Linked DNA regions of Homo sapiens. Changing the gene in region 2 together with the main gene of any one other region gives a genetic interaction. Each region holds a gene or a part of one and is shown on either strand. Other genes may lie near its edges.

What was found.
Region 1: changes in KRAS (region 2) and HSPD1 are lethal when combined (synthetic lethality), as found in Homo sapiens cells (3 studies listed by BioGRID, with this or other methods).
Region 3: changes in KRAS (region 2) and THOC1 are lethal when combined (synthetic lethality), as found in Homo sapiens cells (4 studies listed by BioGRID, with this or other methods).

What each region holds. Positions count from the first base shown.
Region 1 is NC_000002.12:197,496,223-197,503,985, forward strand, and holds the start of HSPD1 (60 kDa heat shock protein, mitochondrial), read right to left. Parts: upstream 3,619-7,763; 5' UTR 3,560-3,618; intron 2,629-3,559; 5' UTR 2,627-2,628; coding exon 2,453-2,626; intron 1,171-2,452; coding exon 918-1,170; intron 1-917. Other genes in the region: HSPE1-MOB4 protein, read left to right, coding at 4,215-4,217, 4,852-5,016; HSPE1 (10 kDa heat shock protein, mitochondrial), read left to right, coding at 4,215-4,217, 4,852-5,016, 6,817-6,906, 6,987-7,037. UniProt on the Homo sapiens protein: Chaperonin implicated in mitochondrial protein import and macromolecular assembly. Together with Hsp10, facilitates the correct folding of imported proteins.
Region 2 is NC_000012.12:25,226,632-25,234,352, reverse strand, and holds part of KRAS (GTPase KRas), read left to right. Parts: intron 1-6,940; coding exon 6,941-7,119; intron 7,120-7,721. UniProt on the Homo sapiens protein: Ras proteins bind GDP/GTP and possess intrinsic GTPase activity. Plays an important role in the regulation of cell proliferation.
Region 3 is NC_000018.10:222,430-230,150, forward strand, and holds part of THOC1 (THO complex subunit 1), read right to left. Parts: intron 4,473-7,721; coding exon 4,372-4,472; intron 2,975-4,371; coding exon 2,908-2,974; intron 2,711-2,907; coding exon 2,660-2,710; intron 2,566-2,659; coding exon 2,495-2,565; intron 1,772-2,494; coding exon of another isoform or gene 1,751-1,771; coding exon 1,655-1,750; intron 1,077-1,654; coding exon 1,011-1,076; intron 1-1,010. UniProt on the Homo sapiens protein: Component of the THO subcomplex of the TREX complex which is thought to couple mRNA transcription, processing and nuclear export, and which specifically associates with spliced mRNA and not with unspliced pre-mRNA.

The sequences.
Region 1 (7,763 bases), on a different chromosome or scaffold from region 2:
AGTGCTAGCTCTCTTGTTTGAGAACTGTTACTTCAAAAAAAATCCAATGCAAGGTGCTGGTAAGTCCTCTTCATAACCTTAATTAATACTTGTTAGTGATTTACAGTAAAACTGCTTTTAGTGAAGTATATTCACTTGGCCCATAAACACTGAAATAGATGAGGTAATGATACATTAGTAATGTAGTAATAAATTAGTATGCCAATTCTGACAAAAAATTACCAATAGCTCCCCCCACCTTCACTTACAAGAGGGTTCCTGGTTTGAACCCTAACATACCCTAGATATACATAGCAATTCTGCTGATAGGAAAACCAAGTCTTAGCACACAGCTAATAAATGACAAACATGGGACTAGAATTTAAGTCTATACTGCCATGAACCTCATGAGGAGGAGCAAATTGTTAATTAAGTTGCACTCTAGTTACAAGCACTAACAAAACACAAACCAATAACATGGTGTGTGCTATTAAGAAAAAATAAACTGAGGAAAACATTACTTTCTGACATTCTGAATGATCCAGTGTATTTAGTCTTACTTTCTACAAAACTAAACTAAAAATTAGCCAGGAATGGTGGTGAGTGCCTGTAGTAGTCCCAGCTACTTGGAGGCTGAGGCAGGAGGATTGCTTGAGCCCAGGAGTTCCAGTGCAGTCCAGCCTGGGCTACAGAGCAAGACCCTGTCTCTAAAAACAAAAGAAACCAACTAAGTAAAATATCAAAATTACCTAACAGTACCTACCCACCATACAGCCAAGCTTGCTAAAGGAAAACCCAGTTTAAGATTTCTCCAGGCCAAGAGGAGGAATGAGAGAAGGATTAATTTCCTCAAGTTAACACTTTCCTTAGGTCCAAGGAATCAATGCCTTAAAGCACACTGAAGTTTAGAACACTGTGGTGACAACAGACATTCCTACCTCTCCTGATTTCCACTGGATTAGCACCTTTGCTAATCTTCTCGAAGCCTTCCTTGGCTATAGAGCGTGCCAGTACAGTAGCAGTGGTAGTGCCATCCCCAGCTTCTTCATTTGTGTTATTGGCAACATCTTGAACAAGTTTAGCTCCAATGTTTTTGTATTTATCTTTTAAGTCAATTGACTTTGCAACAGTCACACCATCTTTTGTTACTTTGGGACTTCCCCAACTCTGCTCAATAATCACTGTTCTTCCCTAGAAGAAAAAAATGTAACAGGATCAGACATACCCTAAGGATGATTTACATTTTTAAAAATGAGCAGTCTTCATAATAAAGCAACTACTTCAAAGTCTCAACGTAAGTTGTGTCATTTTTATCAGTCTTGCAGCATGAACCTCAAGGGCAAGTTTATCGACATTCTTTGTCTACAGACAAAATGACCTGATTCTCTGCCAAGAGCATAATTTTGAACTAGGTAATTTAGGAGATTAAAATCCTAGGGACTAAAACTTGTCATCTTATAAAATGAACAAGAACACAAGACAAAGAATAAAACAATCTTCCTATCACTTATACTTTAGTTAGTGCCTGTTATCTTTTAAAGTAATGTGACTTGTTTTAAAATCCGTTTAACTAAAATATTAACCATCAAGGCAAGTAGCGTGCTCTTCCAGGTTCACGCAACATAAAACTTCAACCATGGCACAATTATTGGCCATCCTTTGGATTTGAACTAAAGCTGCTACTTTCTATTTGTGAGGTGTGCAAATGTTGTATTTTAGGCAGTTGTTGGATCACTTGATATCTGAACTGTCTTCAAACTGAAATGAAGCACCACTTGACTGCACACCACCTTCAAAGGCCTCCTCAAAACATTACCCCTATTAAATGAGACTTATTTTAAATATGCTTTGGAACAAGAGAACAGCAGAAAACCGATGGGTAAAACTAGCATCTTGGGGTGGAGGAGAGAATGGGAAGCTACTGTCTAATGAGTACAAAGTTACAATTTTTCCATATAAAAAGTTTTGGAGATGGATGGTGGTGATGACTGCACAACATAAATGTAATTGATGTCCCCAAAGTGCACACTTAATGGTAATTTTATGTTGTGTACATTTTACTACAATAAACCAAAAAAAAATTTAGCATCTACAAGCACATACCTAAGGAATTATGGAAGATAAGTTAAACTCTTCTCTCTACACTTGGCATGAACTACTGGGAAAGGATCCAAATTTTAACTTAAGCCAGCGAAATTCTACCTCGAGTTTAAGAATCCACCTTGAGCTGTAAGTTACTACCTGATTACATCACACATTGAACAAAATAGTTTCGAAAATCTGGCTGAAGCAGTTTAAGCTTTAAGATCATGTCTAAGAAAAAAAGGCTAACCAATACTTCAGAATTCTTACATGTAAACTGAGTTCTCTCAAAAATGGAGATGAAAGTACTGTTGAATAGTTCAGTGCGACTATTTGTGAGTAAAATGCTATTAATAATACCGTAATTACAATAAAATAAAAATACTGGTACCTTTGGCCCCATTGTAACGGCCACAGCATCGGCTAAAAGGTCTACACCTTGAAGCATTAAGGCTCGGGCATCTGCACCAAATTTTACATCTTTGGCATAAGCCCGAGTGAGATGAGGAGCCAGTACCCTGGACACCGGTCTCATCTGGCGAAAGACTGTGGGTAACCGAAGCATTTCTGGGGATGGAAGCAAAAAGATCATCAGAACTACCACCCGTGGTGCGCTGCAGAACAAACATGCCCACCTGTGCAACAGAGCAAGCAACGTGAGATGCTGAGCCTGGCTGACCTCCGCCAGCCACTACGCCTGAATGACGGAAGGCGCCGCAGCTTCGGAACATCAGCCACTAGCGCAAGCTAAAGAGGCCGCCCCGGCCGGCGCCTGACCTATAGCACCAGCACAAAGCACATGCGGCTCCTTCCCCACGGCCACCTATCCCTGCCGCCAAAAACGAGTTAATCTTTCACCGCGAAAACGGCCTTGTGGGCAGACCCACTCCAACTGTGGCCCCTGAGAAACCAAGTCAGCCGGAGAGAGGCAAGTTACAAATCCAAGTGACCAGGGAAGTTAAAAGTATTCCTGACGGTGCAAAAAGCCGCTCAGCAAAGTGTCTCCATGGATCCACCCAAGGCTACTGTATCAGAGCAACCAGCAAGGCCGCGATGCTGGGGGCGGCGGCCCGGCCCACTCGGCGCGAGCCCACGTGTCCTTCTTTCCGAACGCCCCCAGCAAGGTCAAGACTGGAGGCGCGGTATCCCAGCTGCCTGCGGGGGAAAAAAGCGGTTCCCTCACGTACACCACCCTCCCCGGTTCCCTGAAGTCGGCCAGGCGCAGGTTGCACCAGCGGGCCTAAGTGGTTACAATCCCCCAAATTCAAACCCCACGAGTTGTCCCTCCCGCGCCCAGCCGAGGTCCAGGATCCGCGTCGCACGTGATGGAACCCGCATGGACCCGCGAGGCCTGGACCCGCAGGCCTGGGCCTGCGGTGCGGCGCGGTGCGGAACTCCAGGTTGTCGCCGCCCGCACCCTCCAGCTGGACCGCAGAGGAGGAAGGCCCACTCGGGGGTCGCAGGAGCCGGGGGGAGGTGGTGCGGGAAGGCCGCGTACCTGCGGGGCGGCGGCAAGGCGTGCGCTCGGCGAGACAGGTCGTCGGCGGCGAGTGAGGGACAGAGTGCAGGGCGCACACCGCAATGAGCCCGTGTCCCCTCCCTCCGCCTCTACTCCCGCCCCGCGGCACCGCGTGTGCAGGCAGCTCCCACCCACTTCCCGTCAGCCCGGGCCCTGCAATCTGCACACCCTGCGCGCGAGCCCCGCCCCTCCCTACCCGCGCAGGGTGTGCTAGCGCGCTCAGCCCTCTCCGGCCGGCTTAGTCTAGTTCCCGGGCCTCGCTCGGTTCCAGAACTTTCCAGAAAATGCCGCGCTCCCTACGGCTCAAGGGTCAAATCGCGTCATTTCCGGGAGGGGACGAAGGGGTAGTTCTTTCACCTCGGCTGGGCGCCTAGAAAAGCCTAGAAACAGCTCCTTTTTTCTTCCGCCTCCGAGTCTTCGCGTCAGCGTCCTGCGCAGGGCCCTTGGGGCGAATCGCGGTGCGCGTCGGGGCGACCGCCCTCCCTCCCTGGGAGGGGCGAGGGGGCTAGCGGCGACCGCTGGGGCGAGCGCGCCTGCGCGCTGGGTGATTTTTTCACGTGTCGCCAGGGCCGGACTGCGAGTCTCTTTGCGGCGCTACACTAGAGCAGAGTACGAGTCTGAGGCGGAGGGAGTAATGGTGAGTCCCGCGTGGCCCCGAGGCCTGCAGGCCCGGGCCTGTCTGAGGCGTACGGGGATCCCTGACGCCCCTCTTTTGTTGGGCTGGGCGGGAGGGATTGGTGGCCACTCAGTGACCAGCGCCCGATGGCACCTTGGAGCGGCAAGGCCCGCCCGACCCTTTTCTCCCCCAGGGCTCTTTGCACGCGCGTGTGCTGCCGGTGTGTAAGGCAGGGGGGCGAGAACCCGGGCGCACGCGCAGCGTCTCACCTGCTTCTGCAGGGCCTTTGTGGATGTGTAATATCTTGGGTAAAAATCATGGTGCCAGGCAGGGAGCTTGACCCAGCGTTTCCTGAAAATTTCTGGAAAAACCTGAAGAAGGAAAACATTTGACCTTGGAATAAACTAAGGTTGACCTTAAAGCTGGTCTGGTTGCTCACCGGAGGAGCGACAACGACCCCTAACAGACGTAAGGAATCGGGAATTAAACTTGGAATATTGGTTAGTACATTCAAATGCGCTTCCTTAACGAATAAGCTGAGGTTTGGTGTTAACTTTCAAAGCCAAAACGTGTTGAGATGTATAGCACGGTGGCGTTGCCTGTTGATAATGTGATTACATTTAGTTTTTGTTTCAAAACATTTCTCTTCCTACAGGCAGGACAAGCGTTTAGAAAGTTTCTTCCACTCTTTGACCGAGTATTGGTTGAAAGGAGTGCTGCTGAAACTGTAACCAAAGGAGGCATTATGCTTCCAGAAAAATCTCAAGGAAAAGTATTGCAAGCAACAGTAGTCGCTGTTGGATCGGGTTCTAAAGGAAAGGTAAATGGGAGCTGCAGTGGAACTATTTTTTATAGTGTGCAGTGGAGGGAAAAGAAGTAATTCTGGAGTATTAAAAGTCGCTTATTAAGTAGAGTTTATGTCGTTTTCAAGATCATTAACTGCTTTGGTTCTAATCTGTTTCTTAAAGGGAAATGACTAATATAAAGTTGCTTATTTTATATGACCAATGCTATGATGCTTATTTTATGTGATAGTTTCAGAGTATTAAAAATTGTCCTCAATAGGCCGGGTGCGGTGGCTCTCGCCTGTAATCTCAGCACTTTGGGAGGCCGAGGTGTGCGGATCACAAGGTCAGGAGTTCAAGACCAGCCTGACCAACATGGTGAAACCCCGTCTCTACTAAAGATACAAAAATTAGCCGGGTGTGGTGGCATGCGCCTGTAATCCCAGCTACTGGGGAGGCTGAGGCAGGAGAATCATTTGAACCCTGGAGGCGGAGGTTGCAAGGAGCCGAGGTTGCAAGGCGCCCCTGCATTCCAGTATGGGGGACAGGGCGAGATTCTGTCTCAAAAAAAAAAAAAAAAAATCCCCTCAATAGCAATTTGGTAGCCTAGTGTGATCAGTGTTTGCCTTACATTCTAAATTTTTAATAAGACAAAAGAGGCTGTGCGTGGTGGCTCACACCTGTAATCCTTGCATTTTGGGAGGCCAAAGCAGGAGGATCGTTTGAGCTCAGGATTCAAAATCAGGAGTTCAAAATCAGTCTGGGCAACATAATGAGACCTCCTGTCTACAAAATAAATAAATACAAAAGATGTGCTTCAAGGTAAAATGAGGGGGCATTTAAGAATTGAGAGGAAACTTGGACTGTTCGTTTAACCCCTAACACATTGAAATTGCCCTAATCTTAACCAGTTGGTATACCTGGTTGTATACCTACCAGAGGAACAGGTTGGTCAGTCTTGTCCAATCTGCAGCCTGGGACAGCTCTGAATGCCGCCTAACGCAAATCCCTAAACTTTCTTAAAACCTGATATTTCTTTTGCAATTTTTTTTAAGCTTACCAGCTACTGCTAATGTTAGTGTATTTTATGTGTGGCCCAACACAGTTCTTCCAGTGTGGCCCAGGGAAGCCAAAAGATTGCACACCTCTGTTTTAGATGTTCCTCAGTTAATTGTTTAGGCCTCGGGCTTCTAAAGATCTCAGCCAAAATACACAGTAAACGCCGTTGGGGCCAAATAATGTTAACTGCATTGTTCTAGTTGCTTCTGAGGAGGAAAGCTCTACTGAGGAGCTGTCATGGAGTTAGGAATAGGAAGACTTTGGGGAGTGGACACTTAGCTGCAGTCCCTTTCCCCAAATCTGTTCTTTGGAGGGAACAAAACAATCACAAGAGTATGTTCTAAATCCAAAAAAACTTTAAATTTTTGTATGTTGAAAGAAGGAAAATATGACCATTTGTATATGGCATTTTCTGGGTGCTGGCTACTGTTGCAGGTTTATTTCATATAGTTGATAAGTTATGTTAATATTTAACAGTTATAAAGTTAGCTTTAGTTAACTAAAGTTAGCTTTTCCAGAATATTTTCTTGAACTTTTACGTTGGAGTCAGGTTTTAGTTTAAGCCACTGTGTATTATTTCAAAGTGTAACTACAGTGGTATTTTTGAGTGAAGATCTGTAATTCTAGTATGAGTCGTATCACTTAGCCACGAAATATATTTTTAATATAATTGGATTTGAGTGACCATGTTTCATTAGTTGTAGTGATTTAAAAGTTAACTGTTTATGTTGGGTGAACTAGATATCTTTGCTAATAAACATCCTTCCTTTTTTAAGGGTGGAGAGATTCAACCAGTTAGCGTGAAAGTTGGAGATAAAGTTCTTCTCCCAGAATATGGAGGCACCAAAGTAGTTCTAGATGACAAGGTGTGTAAACTTAATAATTCTAAAAAGAAGTCAGATATTTGCAATTAGTTGTCTTAACTAATGGTTTTTTTCACTTGCAGGATTATTTCCTATTTAGAGATGGTGACATTCTTGGAAAGTACGTAGACTGAAATAAGTCACTATTGAAATGGCATCAACATGATGCTGCCCATTCCACTGAAGTTCTGAAATCTTTCGTCATGTAAATAATTTCCATATTTCTCTTTTATAATAAACTAATGATAACTAATGACATCCAGTGTCTCCAAAATTGTTTCCTTGTACTGATATAAACACTTCCAAATAAAAATATGTAAATGAGTGGTTAATCTTTAGTTATTTTAAGATGATTTTAGGGTTTTCTAGTTTATGCTTTTTTTCTGTTTTTCAAGTAACCTGCAGAGAATTTTGGGAAACAGGATTTTCTACGTAGGTGCATTTTCACACTGAATTTAGCTTTATTAATACATGATTGATACTGATACCAAGCCATGGATTTACTTTTTTTTTTTTTTTTTCTGAGACGGATTCTCACTCTGTCACCCAGGCTGGAGTGCAGTGGTTCAATCTTGGCTTACTGCAACCTCCGCCTTCTGGGTTCAAGTGATTCTCCTCCCTCAGCCTCCAGAGTACCTGGGATTACAGGCGTGCACCACCATGCCCAGCTAATTTTTGTGTTTTTAGTAGAGACAGGTTTTGCCATGTTGCCCAGGCTAGTCTCAGACTCCCAAAGTGCTGGGATTACAAGCGTGAGCCACCACAGCAACATTCAGATTTCAAATATAACAAGCTAACGAGTTACAGGTCTTAAGGTGTTCAATACTTTGTGGATACAGGTCTTCATTCCTAACTCCAAT
Region 2 (7,721 bases):
AACATTTGATTTAGCTCTTTCTTTTTTCCAAGATAGAAAAGTTAATATTGTTGAAGACTCCTGCATTCTTTTCCCTAGTCTTATTTTCTTCCCTCCCATAAATGTGTTAAAATCTCTGTGTGTATTGTTTTGGTTGTATTTTTACATAAAACTTTACATATTATATAAAATTTAATTGAAGGTAAAATTTATTAAATTATTCTTAATATATATTGTAATTTAAAAATTAACAGCTTCATTGTCTTGATAAAATTTATGGTATCTTAAACATGTGCTTGTTTTTCTAAGAGAACATTGAAACATAGATTTTAAAACAAATTGTTGAAAGATTAAAAAATCTGCCTTTGCACACTGTTACATTGAAAGTGGGGCATTTGTCGTGAACATTCATTTCAAATATGTAGTATCTTCAGAATATTTGAGAAGGATTTGTATTATATAATTGAAAAATCTGTTAAATTGTATTTATGTTAACTGCTTAATTCTAATAAAATTTCCATTCATTTTTTAGTATCTGCATATATTTACATCAAATGGATTCATTCACTTATTTAAGAGGCAGTACTAATTACCTATAGCGTTCAAGACTGTTAGGTAGAGGGTGTGTAGTGGTGAGTACAACAGGCGTGAGCCCTACCAACACGGAGTTTAAAGCCTAGTAGAGGATATAGACTTAAACAATTTCACAAGTAAATACATAATTACAAATTATAATACATGCTATGAAGGAAACATAGGAGGTACCAGAGAAGGAAGAGTGCTTTGCATTTTTATTTTTAAGACCGAAGAGTGCTATTGGAGGACTTTGAGCAAGTGAATGACATGATCTAACCTACCTTCGTTCATTCATTCATTCATTCATTTTCTTCCTTCCTGGCTCAAGCAGTCCTCCCACCTGAGCTCCCCAAATAGCTGGGACTACAGGTACACACTACCACACCTAATTTTTTTTTGTATTTTTTGTATTTTTGATGGGATTTTACCATGTTGGCCAGGCTGGTCTTGAACTCTTGACCTCAGGTGATCCACCTGTCTCGGCCTCCCAAGGTGTTGGGATTATAGGTGCCTAGCCCATGGTGCCTAGCCCTAACCTACATTTATAAACTATCACTTGCTGCTGTGTGGAGACTATATTGTGAGATTAACAGCAGGGATACCTGCTAGGAAGCAATTGCTGCAGATTGCCTGAGACAAAATAGTTATCATGGACTAGGGGGATGGTGGTGGTGGTGGTGGTAGGTGGTTGGATGTAGGATATATTTTGAAGATAGGTAAATGGTGCAAGATTATGGGTCAGTTTTAAATGCTTAAGTAAATTTTCTTTGTAAGACATTTTAGGATGCCATGTTAAGAATCTCTTTATAACTGTCATTTAAAAAAAAACCACATATTTTCTTAGCATAATTTCCCATAGTAACATTACTATGTCAAAGGCTATGAACATTTGAATGACTTTAGATAAATACTGTAATTGCTTTCCAAAAATATTGTGCTTATTATGTCACCAGAAATGTTTGAATTCTGTCTACAATTCAGTCTTGCCAGTATAGTACATTTCATTTAGAAAAATTTTTTACTATGTAGATGGAAAAAATAATATTTTAGCTGGGAGTGGGGGGACTATGGGGAATAACTTTCCTTCATTTAATATTTTATTGTGAGTTAGTTTAAGTTACTTTATTTTATCGTAGTTTCCTAAGGCTACAAATTAGTAACCTTGGTAACTTATGTACCTAATTTAAAAGTTTACTTTTTTGAAAGGCTGGAAATACTAATTAAAAACGTAACACCTTCATCCTTGTCTTTGCTCCATTATTAACTAGTTTCATTACAGAATCTCTGTGTTTTAAAATCAGATGGGTTTTCATAACCAGTACTTTCTCAGAGTGGTAAATTTAAAAAAATATATAAAGAGAATAAATAATATTTGTTGAGAATACTTCAAATAATGTGAAGAGTTATTAACTTACAGCAGGAGTTGGCAAACTTTTCTATAAAGGGCCATATGGGTCTTTGTCACAAAGTCTTGGGTTTTTGTTTTTGTTTTTTTAAACAGCTATTTAACTATTCCTAGCTAATGGGCAATACAAAAACAGTGGGCAAGATTTGGCCTGTGGGCAGTAGCTTGCTGAAACCTTATTTAGACTCTAAATTTTTTGAAAGAGTCTACATTGATGCATATTTTTTTTTCTTCCTCCAAATACAGTTGACCCTTGAACAACATGCGTTTGAGTGACCATGGGTCCACTTGTGATACACGTTTTTTTCCCAACCAAATGCAGATATGGAGGGCTGACTTTTCATATACCTGGATGTTCCTGGGCCAACTGTAGGACTAGAGGCTGGGGGGGTCTTGGAACCAATGCCGTGTGTATACCAGGGATGACTGTTTCTTATGGCCTGACCTGAAGTTGGAACAGAATCTTTATTAATATATAATTTTTGTTGCGTTTGTTTTCTCTTTATATTTATCCATTCTTTTTAGATCGTATTTCATTTAACACTTTTTCTTCTTTAGTTTTTACCAAGTTGCACTGAAAATAGCTCAGTGACTAATTGCACTTCTAAGAGTGAGGACCCTAGTTAAAATTAACTCTAAAAATACTGAATTTTTAACCTAAACCTTTTATTTCTAATCAACAGTATTATTTATGAGTAGGTTATAGATTACTTTGAAACGGAATGTGTCTCAGAACTTTGCTATCGATATTTTTAAGGTCTGGTAGGGAAAAGATAATAGGAATGAGATTTATCAGTGAATAGGGGACTGCTTTCCCAGTTTCTCGGTCGCACTGGTGTATTCACCATGGAAGCATCTTATGAAATATGTACATAAACTACTAATATCCCACATTACAGGTTGACTATTCTTTATCTGAAATGCTTAGGACCTAGAAGTATTTTTGGATTTTGGTTTTTCAGAGTAGGGATACTCAGCCTACATTGGTAAGTAAAGAATGTGAGGTGACAGGCTGGGCGCGATGGTTGACGCCTGTAATCCCAGCACTTTGGGAGGCCGAGGCGGATCACCTGAGGTCAGGAGTTGAAGACCAGCCTGGCCAATCTGTACTAAAAATACAAAAATTAGCTGGACACAGTGGCACGTGCCAGTAGTCCCAGCTACTCAGGAGGCTGAGGTAGGAGAATCGCTTGAACCTGGGAGGCGGAGGTTGCAGTGACTCGAGATCGTGTCACTGCCCTCCAGCCTAGGCAACAGAGCAAGACTCCATCTCAAAAAAAAAAAAAAAAAAAAAAAAAAAGAATGTGAGGTGGCAGCAATAGGTAGGAAGAGTCTTTGGTCAGCTTTACATGCTCTGTAGCCATGCCTGGGTAATGGGTTGACTCTAAGACTCTGTGCTTTGCTCCCACCTCCTGCTTTTTCATTACTCTTTAGAATGGTTTTTAATTTGTGATCTATAGGAGTTCTTTCAAGTATTTAATAAGAGAATAGGCTAAATTAAGTAAATGTCAACTGAATGCTCAAATCTCTACTAAAGAGCCTCTTATTTAGAAAATAAATATCCATCTTTTTTTTCTGACTGGTGAGATAATTAATTTTTATTACAGATGGTTTGGAAAATACCATATGCTTTAAAAGATAAGCACAAAATTATAGTCTAATATGTAGGTTTTCATACTTTAAAAAATTGAAAACCAAAGAAAAACATTTAACATAGCATCTAGTACAAAGAAAAGAGATAAGCAAGAGATAAATGTCTTTTTTGGGACAGAGTTTTGCTGTTGTTGCCCAGGCTGGAGTGCAATGGCACAATCTCAGCTCACCGTAACCTCCACCTCCCGGGTTCAAGTGATTCTCCTGCCTCAGCCTCCCGAGTAGCTGGGATTACAGTCATGCACCACCAGGCCCAGGTAATTTTGTATGTTTAGTAGAGATGGGGTTTCTCCGTGTTGGTCAGGCTGATCTCAAACTCCCGACCTCAGGTGATCTGCCCACCTTGGCCTCCCAAAGTGCTGGGATTACAGACATGAGCCATCGCACCCGGCCAAGATAAATGTCTTTTAAATTATCTCCATTAAAGACATAACCTTTATAACATTTTGATGTATATATTACCAGTTTTTAAACACATAGTAGATTTGTATAAATACATAAACACATATTATTGTGATCATGCTGCACTTAGACATCTTTATATTCTCCTTATACTGTAAACATTTTGAAATACTTTACTAACAACATTTGTAATGACCATTCTTTCTCTCTTTCTCCCTCTGATAGAATGGTCTACAGAGTAATTCATAAACTAAACATACTTTAGAGGCTGGGCGCAGTGGCTCATGCCTGTAATCCCAGCACTTTGAGAGGCTGAGGCGTGCAGATCACGAGGTCAGGAGTTAGAGACCAGCCTGACTAACATGGTGAAACCCCATCTCTACTAAAAAAACAGTACAAAAATTAGCCGGGCGTGGTGGCGTGCACCTAGAATCCCAGCTACTCAAGAGGCTGAGGCAGGAGAATCACTCGAGCCCAGGAGGCAGAGGTTGTAGTGAGCCGAGATTGCACCACAGCACTCCAGCCTGGGCGACAGAGCGAGACTCCATCTCAAAAAAAAAAAAAAAAGATACATTAATACTATAGCCTACATGTGGAACATTAAGAAAATAATTGCTTTTATGTTTATGCTTTATACCTGTTGTTAGCCCTGCTTCTTATTTCATGATTTCATGGCTTCACATTGTAACATCCCTTTACCATATTTTTTGAGGACTGTTTTGGCAGAATGTGTGAAATCTTGAGCAGAAGTATTACCCAAAAGTCAGAAGAAAATCAGATTTTTATTTCAAGATTCTGTTAAAGTTACCCACTCCCTTCTTTTACTTAATCTTATAGTTGCAGTTCTCTCTCTTTTTAGAAAAGAAAAAAGAGGCCCCTCAGGATTTGCAGATGAAACAATATTGCTCTTTAGAGATATCCATCTGGCTGTTAGATTATTTTTCCACAGTTTTCAGAAGTGGATGAGGCCATTAGAATCTTGAGTATTGCCCATTTCCTTATGTGTGCCTTTGACTATAGATAAAATAGATGCATGACAATTATTTATAAGTTGATTGATTTTTCTTGTCATTTAAATCATCTTGAATAATAGAGTTGGTAGAGCTATCCCATTTTTGAAATTATTTTGTTTTGTCAATAACTTTTTGTTACCAGCATGTACACTTGCATTGTTGACTCTCCATATAATACCTTTAAAAAATTTTTTTTTGTGGTAAAATATGCATAACATAAAGTTTACCATGGTAGTTTTCTTTCATTTGTTTTGTTTTTGTTTTTTTGAGACGGAGCCTTGCTCTGTTGCCAGGCTGGAGTGCAGTGGAGCGATCTTGGCTCACTGCAACCTCCGCCTCCCGGGTTCAAGCAATTCCCCTGCCTCAGCCTCCTGAGTAGCTGGGACTACAGGCGCCCGCCACCACGCCCGGCTAATATTTTGTATTTTAATAGAGATGGGGTTTCACCATGTTGGCCAGGATGTTCTTGATCTCCTGACCTCATGATCCGCCCACCTCGGCCTCCCAAAGTGTTGGGATTGCAAGTGTGAGCCACCGCGCCTAGACCATGGTAGTTAATTTTAAGTGTTCAATTCAGTGACCTTAAGTGTGTTCATAATGTTGTGCAACCATCACCATGTTGTCTAACCATTAGCACTATCTGTTTTGAGAACTTTTTTTTATCATCCCAAATTAGAATTCTGTACCTGTCAAATAGTCCCCAGTAATCCTCCCTCCCCCAGCCCCTGGTAATCTGTAGTCTACTTTTCGTCTTTTTGAATTTGCCTATTTTAGGTTCCTCATATAAGTGGAATTATGTGGTATTTGTCCTTTTGTGTTGGCTTACTTCATTTAGCATAATGTTTTCAAGGTTCATCTGTGTTGTAGCATGTATATACAGGTTGAAGCATCCGTTATCCAAAATGGTTGTGACCAGAAGTGGTTTGGATTTCAGATTTTTTTTTTGGATTTTGGAATATTCATAGATACTTAACTGGTTCAGCATCCCTCGTCCAAAAATCCAAAATCAGATGGAGCTCAGTGGCTCATGCTTGTAATCCCAACACGTTGGGTGGCCAAGGCAGGAGGATCGCTTGAGCCCAGGAGTTCAACCAGCCTGAGCAACACAAGACCCTATCTCTCCAAAAAAAAAAAAAAAAAAAAAAAGATGAAAGAAAAAAAAATCCAAAATCAAATGCTCCAGTGAGCATTTCCTTTTAGCATCATGTCAGGCTCTAAAAGTTACAGGTTTTGGAGCATTTTGGATTTCAGATTTTTGGATTAACCTGCATTAATGCTCAACCTATATGAAATTTTATTCCTTTTTATGGCTGAATAATGTTCCACTGTATGTATATACTACATTTTGTTTATCCATTCATCTGTTAACAGACACTTAAGTTATTTCCACATTTTGGGTATTATAAATAGTGCTGCTGCGAACATTGGTGTACATGTATCTGTTTGAGTCCCTGTTTTTAGTTATTTTGGTTATATACCTAGGAATGGAATTGCTGATCATATGGTAATTCTGTGTTTAACTTTTTGAGGAACTACCACTGTTTTCCACAATGGCATCACCATTTTACATTCCCACCAGCAATGCACAAAGATTTCAGTGTCTGTATCCTTGCTAACACTTATTTTCCATTTTTTGAGTTTTTTTGTTTTGTTTTTTTAATAATAGCCAATCCTAATGGGTATGTGGTAGCATCTCATGGTTTTGATTTTATTTTCCTGACTATTGATGATGTTGAGCATCTTTTCAGGTGCTTAGTGGCCATTTGTCCGTCATCTTTGGAGCAGGAACAATGTCTTTTCAAGTCCTTTGCCCATTTTTAAATTGAATTTTTTGTTGTTGAGTTGTATATAACACCTTTTTTGAAGTAAAAGGTGCACTGTAATAATCCAGACTGTGTTTCTCCCTTCTCAGGATTCCTACAGGAAGCAAGTAGTAATTGATGGAGAAACCTGTCTCTTGGATATTCTCGACACAGCAGGTCAAGAGGAGTACAGTGCAATGAGGGACCAGTACATGAGGACTGGGGAGGGCTTTCTTTGTGTATTTGCCATAAATAATACTAAATCATTTGAAGATATTCACCATTATAGGTGGGTTTAAATTGAATATAATAAGCTGACATTAAGGAGTAATTATAGTTTTTATTTTTTGAGTCTTTGCTAATGCCATGCATATAATATTTAATAAAAATTTTTAAATAATGTTTATGAGGTAGGTAATATCCCTGTTTTATAAATGAAGTTCTTGGGGGATTAGAGCAGTGGAGTAACTTGCTCCAGACTGCATCGGTAGTGGTGGTGCTGGGATTGAAACCTAGGCCTGTTTGACTCCACAGCCTTCTGTACTCTTGACTATTCTACAAAAGCAAGACTTTAAACTTTTTAGATACATCATTAAAAAAGAAAACCATAAAAAAGAATATGAAAAGATGATTTGAGATGGTGTCACTTTAACAGTCTTAAAAGCAATCGTGTGTATAGCATAGAATTGCTTGGATTGGATAAACAGTGGCATTATATATTTTAAAAAATAAAAGTTTTGAAAGATTGAAGAATTTGGGCATTACAGTTCTCTTAAATCTGACAAAGCTGCATAAAACTATTAAAATAATCATTATTATACTATTTTATATTCTATTTCTTTGAGGGTTTAGTTTTCCAAAAACTACATATTAAGCAAATGAATCACTCAG
Region 3 (7,721 bases), on a different chromosome or scaffold from region 2:
CTTGTTACAGAATTTTTTAGTTGAAATGTTGAAAAAGCAAGTAATACTTCTAGAAATGAGAAAATATAGTCATTGAATTTACAAAACGAGCAGGTTTAACAGCAGTCTGGACATAGGGAAAGTAAGAATTACTGGATTAATGATTAAGAAATCACCCAGAAAGCAATACAGAAGGAGCAAGAGTTGGAAACGATGAGTTAATGATAGTTGAGGAGGTCCAGCAAACATCTAATGGCAGAAAGAAATAATAGAGAATGTGAAAGACATTTTCAAGCACTCATCCCACTGTCTTCTGATTTTTGTTGTTCTTGAAGTCAACTGTTAGTTTAACTTTGCTCCTTTGTAGGTTGTCTGTTTTTTCTCTCTGGTGACTTTATTATCATGTACAGAGATATGGATTTATTTGGTTTATCCTCCTTAAGTATTATACTTCTTGAACCTATGAATTCATGCCTATTCTTAATAATTAACTCAATTATTGCCTCTTTCCCATTCTCTATTATTTCTTTCTGCCATCAGATGTTTGCTGGACCTCCTCAACTATCATTAAGTCATCGTTTCTAACTCTGCTCCTTCTGTATTGCTTTCTGGGTGATTTCTTAATCATTAATTAACCCATTAATTCTTACTTTACCTATGTCTAGACTGCTATTAAACTTGCCCATTTTGCAAGTTCAACGAACTTTTGTGACTATTAAAACCCAAGTTCCCTGGTTCTCAAAGCTGGCAATCATTAGTACTGCTGCCCTAGAACCGTATCAGTTCATAGGCTTACTCTTCTGTTTGTAGTTTTGATTCCTTTTGTGAATCTTTATTTTTTTGTGATTTCTAAAATTATTTTATCAGCACTTTGAGGAGTTTTATGGTGGGAAGTTACACGCTGCTGTGCCAAAAGTCAACCACAATAAACTTTTAAATTTCATTTGAGCTCTGATCATAGCTGAGAAAAGGCTCCATTCTACTCAACACTTGACAAAAGCAACACTTCATTTGAAAAATGTTCAACTTGCCTTGTCTCTGATTTACAGGCTTCCATATTATCAGGGCAAAGATTCCAAAGCCTTGTTAACTCCTCACTACAAAATAGACACAGAAATAAATACATTTTTTATGGACACCATCCTCATGTGCCTTGAAACTGAACAGAAAAACAATACAATGTAAACAGTGGATTTGGGGATGTTGACAGTATGAGTTTTACTTTTCTCAATAATTTTTGGTATTTAAAATACCTAAAATTATTCTCTATATGAGCATATAATCATTAATCATGACTAATGATAATGATATAATCTTTAGTTTTTTCTAAAAATATTCCAGCACAATATAAAGCAATGAATAGTTAACTGGAAGGTAAGAGAACTCAAGGATTATGGTACCTTGCAACAACTGGAATCTAAACAATTCTACTGTCTGAAACGGAAAAAATGGCACAGCCTAGAGACACAGATTTTGGAAGCTGGAGACAAAATGAAGGTTTATCTGGTGCATGAACCCACACAATGGGCAGTATAGACAGTGCGGTTTGCTTTGGCTATCTATGTGTGTACCAAACACAATCTCATACTATATTTTGGATGGAGAGTTCTTAAAGTAACATCTTCAAAATATAAAAATAACTAAGAACATCCCACATGAAGACAAATTCACCTACTTTCCCATCAGAATTTTTTTGGTGGGTCCTTTCCCTAGGAAGTCCTCGGGTGCTGTTCTCTTCCGAATTATTCTCGTAGGTTTGGTATCTGATGTTCTGTCGTGAACAAAACATACACTATTTTTTGAATTACAAATGGATAACAGAAATAGAAGAATGTTTAACGTAAAAGAAAATTTAGTTATTGTTTTCCTCTTAAAAAAGATGAAAACTGGCTGGGCATGGTGGCTCATGCCTGTAATCCCAGCACTTTGGGAGGCTGAGGTAGGTGGATCACCTGAGGTCAGGAGTTTGAGACCAGCCTGGCCAACATGGTGAAAGCCTGTCTCTACTAAAAATACAAAAATTAGCCAGGCATGGTGGTAGGCGCCTGTAATCCCAGCAACTCAGGAGGCTGAGGCATGAGAATCGCTTGAACCCAAGAGGCGGAGGCTGCGGTGAGCCAAGATCATGCCACTGCACTCCAGCCTGGGTGACAGAGTGAGACTCCCTCTCAAAAAAAAAAAAAAAATGAAAACTTCATATTATGATAGAACAATTATCAGATATAAGATAAAAATGCCACATTATATGGCAAATTACACGGAGTAGATATACAGTATTCTTCTCAATAATAAGATGTTTGTTCCAGGAATTTAATGACAAGAAATTTATGAGGTTTAAAAAATACAGAGGTAAATCAAAGTGGTTGTACTCTTACAAAGTTCAACTTACATTTTTTATGTGAAATATATACATGTATTTTTACATGCTATAATCATATCGGAGCACATTTTCAAAAGCCTTTCTCGTCGTTCTTGTGATGAGTATGTATTTACCTTTCTTTCAGTATGTATTTACCTTTCTTTCACAAAACTTGGGCAACCTTCATTTTTCCACGAGTTCCAGTTTTCTTCAGTGTTTAATATATGCTGGGAAAAACAAAGCGATTACATTTTGGTTAGTGGAATCCTCTGAAGTTCTATTTCGTGCTAAGAAGAGGATGTAAGCATAAAAAACACATACCTCTACCATCTTTGAAAATCTTTCTCCATCGGGGGGGTTTTCAGATAGTAGCTGTGATTAGAAAGAATATACTAAGCTTTCAACAACTTTCTGCATCATAGGAGTGGTTTGTAGGCAGAGAACCAAGGAGTGTTTGTGGTCTTGTACCTGAGCTTAACTTTATCCTTATTTTCCTATTTGGGGCTGAAACAAAGAAAATCCTAAATTTCCATTTTTTCAATCATGGGTTTGTTGCGTGTTGAACTTACTTGATAAACTGATTTTGTAGTATCTTCAATCCAAAGTGATTGCTCATCAGTTAAAACATAGTTTGAACTAGGGAACAAAGCAATGAAAGCATGCTTGAGTTACAGCAATGCATATGCAACTTTAAGGTTTAAAAAACACAAGGCATGTAACATGTAACTATACTGTGGATAGTGTCAAAAATTACCAAGACAAGAATAATCACAAATGAGAGGATTATAAGAGAAAATTCTTGCACTTCTTCCTCAAGAGGGTTGGTACTGAAGACATAAAAGCATATGCAGGGAATAAAACATTCAATTAATCAATCAGATTCACTATGAACAGAGCAATATATGTTTCCTAAAATAAGCTGAGTGTGAAACGAAAACTTCTGATTTGATATTAAGATATGTGTATACATGATGCACATTCAGTATGGCATGCTACATTAAGATTCATTCAAAATACAACGAATAAAACACCCAAACCCTAGAAAAGGCAACAGGCAAACCCAAATTGTTAATAGCTGCCACTAACTGAGCTCTCATAATGCACTAGGTGATTTAAAGACATCCAATAAATATTGATGGCTAGGATCTGAACACTTTACATACATTATTCATTGAATTCTCGGAACAAGTACATGTACATATTAAACAGAGACTACCGTGTCTCACTGATTTGCCCAAGGCCATAAAGATTTAATTCAAACCCACGTCTCACTTCAAAGTCCCTCATCTTCCTACTATGCTATACCAAACCTCCAAAATAGATAGAAGGATAAGAAATAACATTTTTTGAGTGTTTACCATGTGCTACTACCTTAAAATTACAAGTCTGAAAGAGCTGCACTGCAGCCAGCAAATGACGAGCCTGGGATTCAAACCCAGCAGGTAGTGAAGTCATTATACAACTAATACGGCATTGCTCAGTGTCCTTAACACAAATACCGTTAAGTAACAGTGGGCTCCACCTTCAGTTATGGACAGGATAGGAGGAAATGGATGGAAGTATTTAGATAGACAGTAGAGAGCCTAATGAGGTTTTGTGAAACCCCAAATAAATGAACTCCTTTTTGCTTAAAAATTTTCTTTGCATCTTTTAGCTTGAATGTCCTGCAGAGCTCCACACCTTGTGAGATATGTATTACTGGCTTAGTCTGCAAATCAGCTTTGGAGGAGGTCTGAGGGAGGTGAGAAGGGAATGACGGAATTTTGGAGCAGAGACCTCCACCTGCTAATAAAGACGACAACTCCTGGCAAGCCCTGGAGTTGGGCAGGAAAAACTCACACTGACAGATATATTTAACATCTTTTCCTTAAATATCCTAATATCGAAAAGCCTTCAATGTATCAGCTGCAATACATGTGTTTTAGGGATACAGCCTTAACATGAAATGGACACATACATAAGAAAAATCGTAAGCAAGTCCTTTTTTTTCTTGGCTACTGTTTACAAATTGTTTACTACCCATATTATCTTACCTTTTGAATTTGACCTGCCCCTTGAGATATTGGAATAAAATGAGATACTGCAACAGGATGTGTCGACGAAAGTTACTGTCACTCAGTTGTAAATCCATCAGCTACTCAAGAAACAAGCAAACACATACGAAAACAACACATTAAAATCAAGTTTTTCCTAAAGGTACAAAATGTGCTAATATAGAAATGGAAGATTCCAATTCAATTTAAAAGCCATTTGTTGAGAGTTCACTGCATGTGAGGCATTACCGCACAAGCCCAAAGACAGCCCAGTCAAGGTTTCACTTAGATTTCTTGACTGTTTTATGCCATGACACATTCTTGCTGGTGGATAACAATGATCTATCTATGGTCCAGACATGAGGATAAAATAAAGCAGAAATAGAAAAAAGTAAGCTGGGCATGGTGGCACAAAGCCTATTATAGTCCCAGCTACTCAGGAAGCTGAGAAGGAGGATCACTTGAGCTCAGGAGTTCGAGATCAGTCTGAGCAACATAGCAAGACTCTAAATTTAAAAAAAAAATTTTTTTTTAAAGTAAAACTGAGGCTACTACTTTCTCACATATGAAGAAATAATGGCTAAAGAAGATACGGATAACAGCACAATATCAACGGGGACCACTCATTTTTGTAGCCCTATAAAGTGCCTGCAACAGAGGTATTACTTGACAATAAACAAGAAATTAGAGGTGAAGATCATCTCTGATTAGATGGGCTTTTTTTTTTAGCTTTTAGTGAAAATTGCATCATACTTGTATTATCACAGAATCTGGATTAGAAAGGACTTGAAGGTCACTCATGAGGAAGTTCTTCAACGACCCTGCCATCCAGCTGTAAGAATAACCTGCGGCGATGAAGGAAGGTCATTCTGATTATGTGCATGGAACACTGAAGGAAGGCTGAAGTCTGTATCCACAAACTCATGCTAGTTCTGCCTTCAAAAACTACAGTAACAAAGGAAAGCCACGTTCTTCTAAATGAATCGCCAGTAAGGCAGCTGGAAGCGTCGAAGATTGGTTTTGGTTCAATGTCCCAAGTGCTGGTGGCTCTGCTTTACGTGGTTGGTACCATTTACTAATGCTACCTAACACGCACAAGCCTCCCTATTCACTAGCAACCCCTTCCACACTGTGGCTCCAGGTCTTAAAAAAAAAAATTAATGATCAGCCTTCCAGTCAGGTTTCCCTCACGTTTAAGGATTGAATATATTTGATTGTTATTTATATTAACTCTCCTATCCCAAATTGGAAATGTGAATGGCCGGCCATCAGCCTTCCCTTCCTCCAGCCCCTGGGCAACTTGACTGTCTCCACTCAGGCTGTTAGTTCCTTGCCCTTAACTCCACGGACAGGCCCATCTCTGCTCCAGCTACCCACTACTGTGGCCACAGCTAGACCTGGGGTCACTCACAGCTGCCCCAGATCTGAAGTCTTCAACTCACAATCCTATCTCACCACAACCTCTATCCTTCCCAGGTCTCTCGCTCAGTTGCTTCCAATATACCTAATATTTGGATCTTACCGAGACTTTAAGGCCCTTGACCCGTCTATTCTCTGCCTGTTAGTCCCATCCCATTTTATTATAATCCTATTTTAGTCTAGATAAGGGGTCAGCAAACTTTTTCCTGAAGTGTCAAATAGTAAGTATTTTTATTAATAGGTTATGTGGGCTAAGAGACATATTATGGATATTATGTAGGTATTTAAACATCTAAAATGTAAGGGGGAAAAAAAAACCAAAATCACCAAAAACAACCAACACAGGTGGTGGGCCAGATTTGGCCTATAGGCTATAGTCTGCCAACTCCTGGTCTAGACTTCATGGTTAATCTCTTCGGCCATTTTCTTGCCAACTTCAACACACTTGTCCCATATTTCTTCTGTCATGTCTAGTGAGCAAACAGCAACCTTGAATAAACCAACTGTTAGTCACCTTCTCTATACCAACCCTCAGGATTCCAATCTCAGCTGAAAGTGAGGTGCCTGAGTGAATACCCCAAATTACACAGCTATGCAGAAGGCACCACTGGTATGTTGTCACCACCTTAAACATCTGTTTTTAATCAGCAATCTTTCTTTATTCTTCAAGGCCATTCTCTCTCCTACTCTTCACAGTAATGATTTTCAACCCTTTCCACTTAGCAAAAATACTACTTTACCACCCCTTCTCACTTTCAGTAGATAACTACTTTTGCCTTCAATGAGAAGAAAAATTAAATTGGAAAGCATTTCATTTCTTGGCCCCCAAAATGACAAATCAGCTGCACCTACACCTTTGTTTACTTCATTTCCTTCTGTCACAACTCCTTCACGGCTAAAGGTATTCCATCTGGATTACCTTCCATCTGGAATCCCAATATCCCTAACAATTGAGTTCCATCAACTAACTGCCCTGGTTTCTGTATCTACAACCTATTCTTTCCAAGCTCCTTTCCATAAGCATTAAATAAGCTCCCTCAAAAATCTCCCACATTCTCACCTAACCCTTTAACAGCAAAGCTTCTTAAAATAATTGACTATAGGCACTGTTGCCAATCAGCTCCTCAACCTGCTATCATCTGACCGCCTCATCCACTAATCCATTGAAAGTGTTTTTGTCGGCTGGGTGTGGTGGTTCACGCCTGTAATCCCAGCACTTTGGGAGGCTGAGGCGGGCGGATCACAAGATCAGGAGTTCGAGACCAGCCTGGCCAACATGGTGAAACCCCGTCTCTATTTAAAAAAAAAAAAAATTAGCGGGGCGTGGTGGTGCATGCCCTGTAATTCCAGCTACTCTGGAGGCTGAGGCAGGAGAATAGCTTAAACCTGGGAGGCGGAGGTTGCAATGAGTCCAGACCATGCCACTGCACTCCAGCCTGGGCAGCAGAGCAACAATCGGTCTTGGGGCGGGGGAAGAAAGTGTTTTGTCAAGATCACCAATGACTTATTTGTTGTTAAATCCTGTGAACACTCTTTACTGTCCTCATCCTACTTGATATGCTTGGCTTCCATGAGTGCATGCTTTTCTAGTTTTTCTCTAATCTCACAGGTTACTCTTCAATCTTCTCCTCTTCTCCCTTCATTCTCCCTTAAACATGGGTTTTCTTCGGGATTTCAGTATTTTCTTCTCTTCTGAATCTACACTCTCCCCTTTAGCTCATTTCATACACTCTACAGTTTGAATTACCATTTATAAACTGGTAACTCCTACAACTATACTCTCAACCTAGATCTTGTTCCTAGTCTCCAGCTTTGTACACTAGACAACCTATCACACATCTCTACCTGAATGTTCAACTGACACCTGATCAGATTTCATGAACAAAGTAAAACATCAATTTCCTCCACAAAAGCTGTTCTCCAGCATTGGC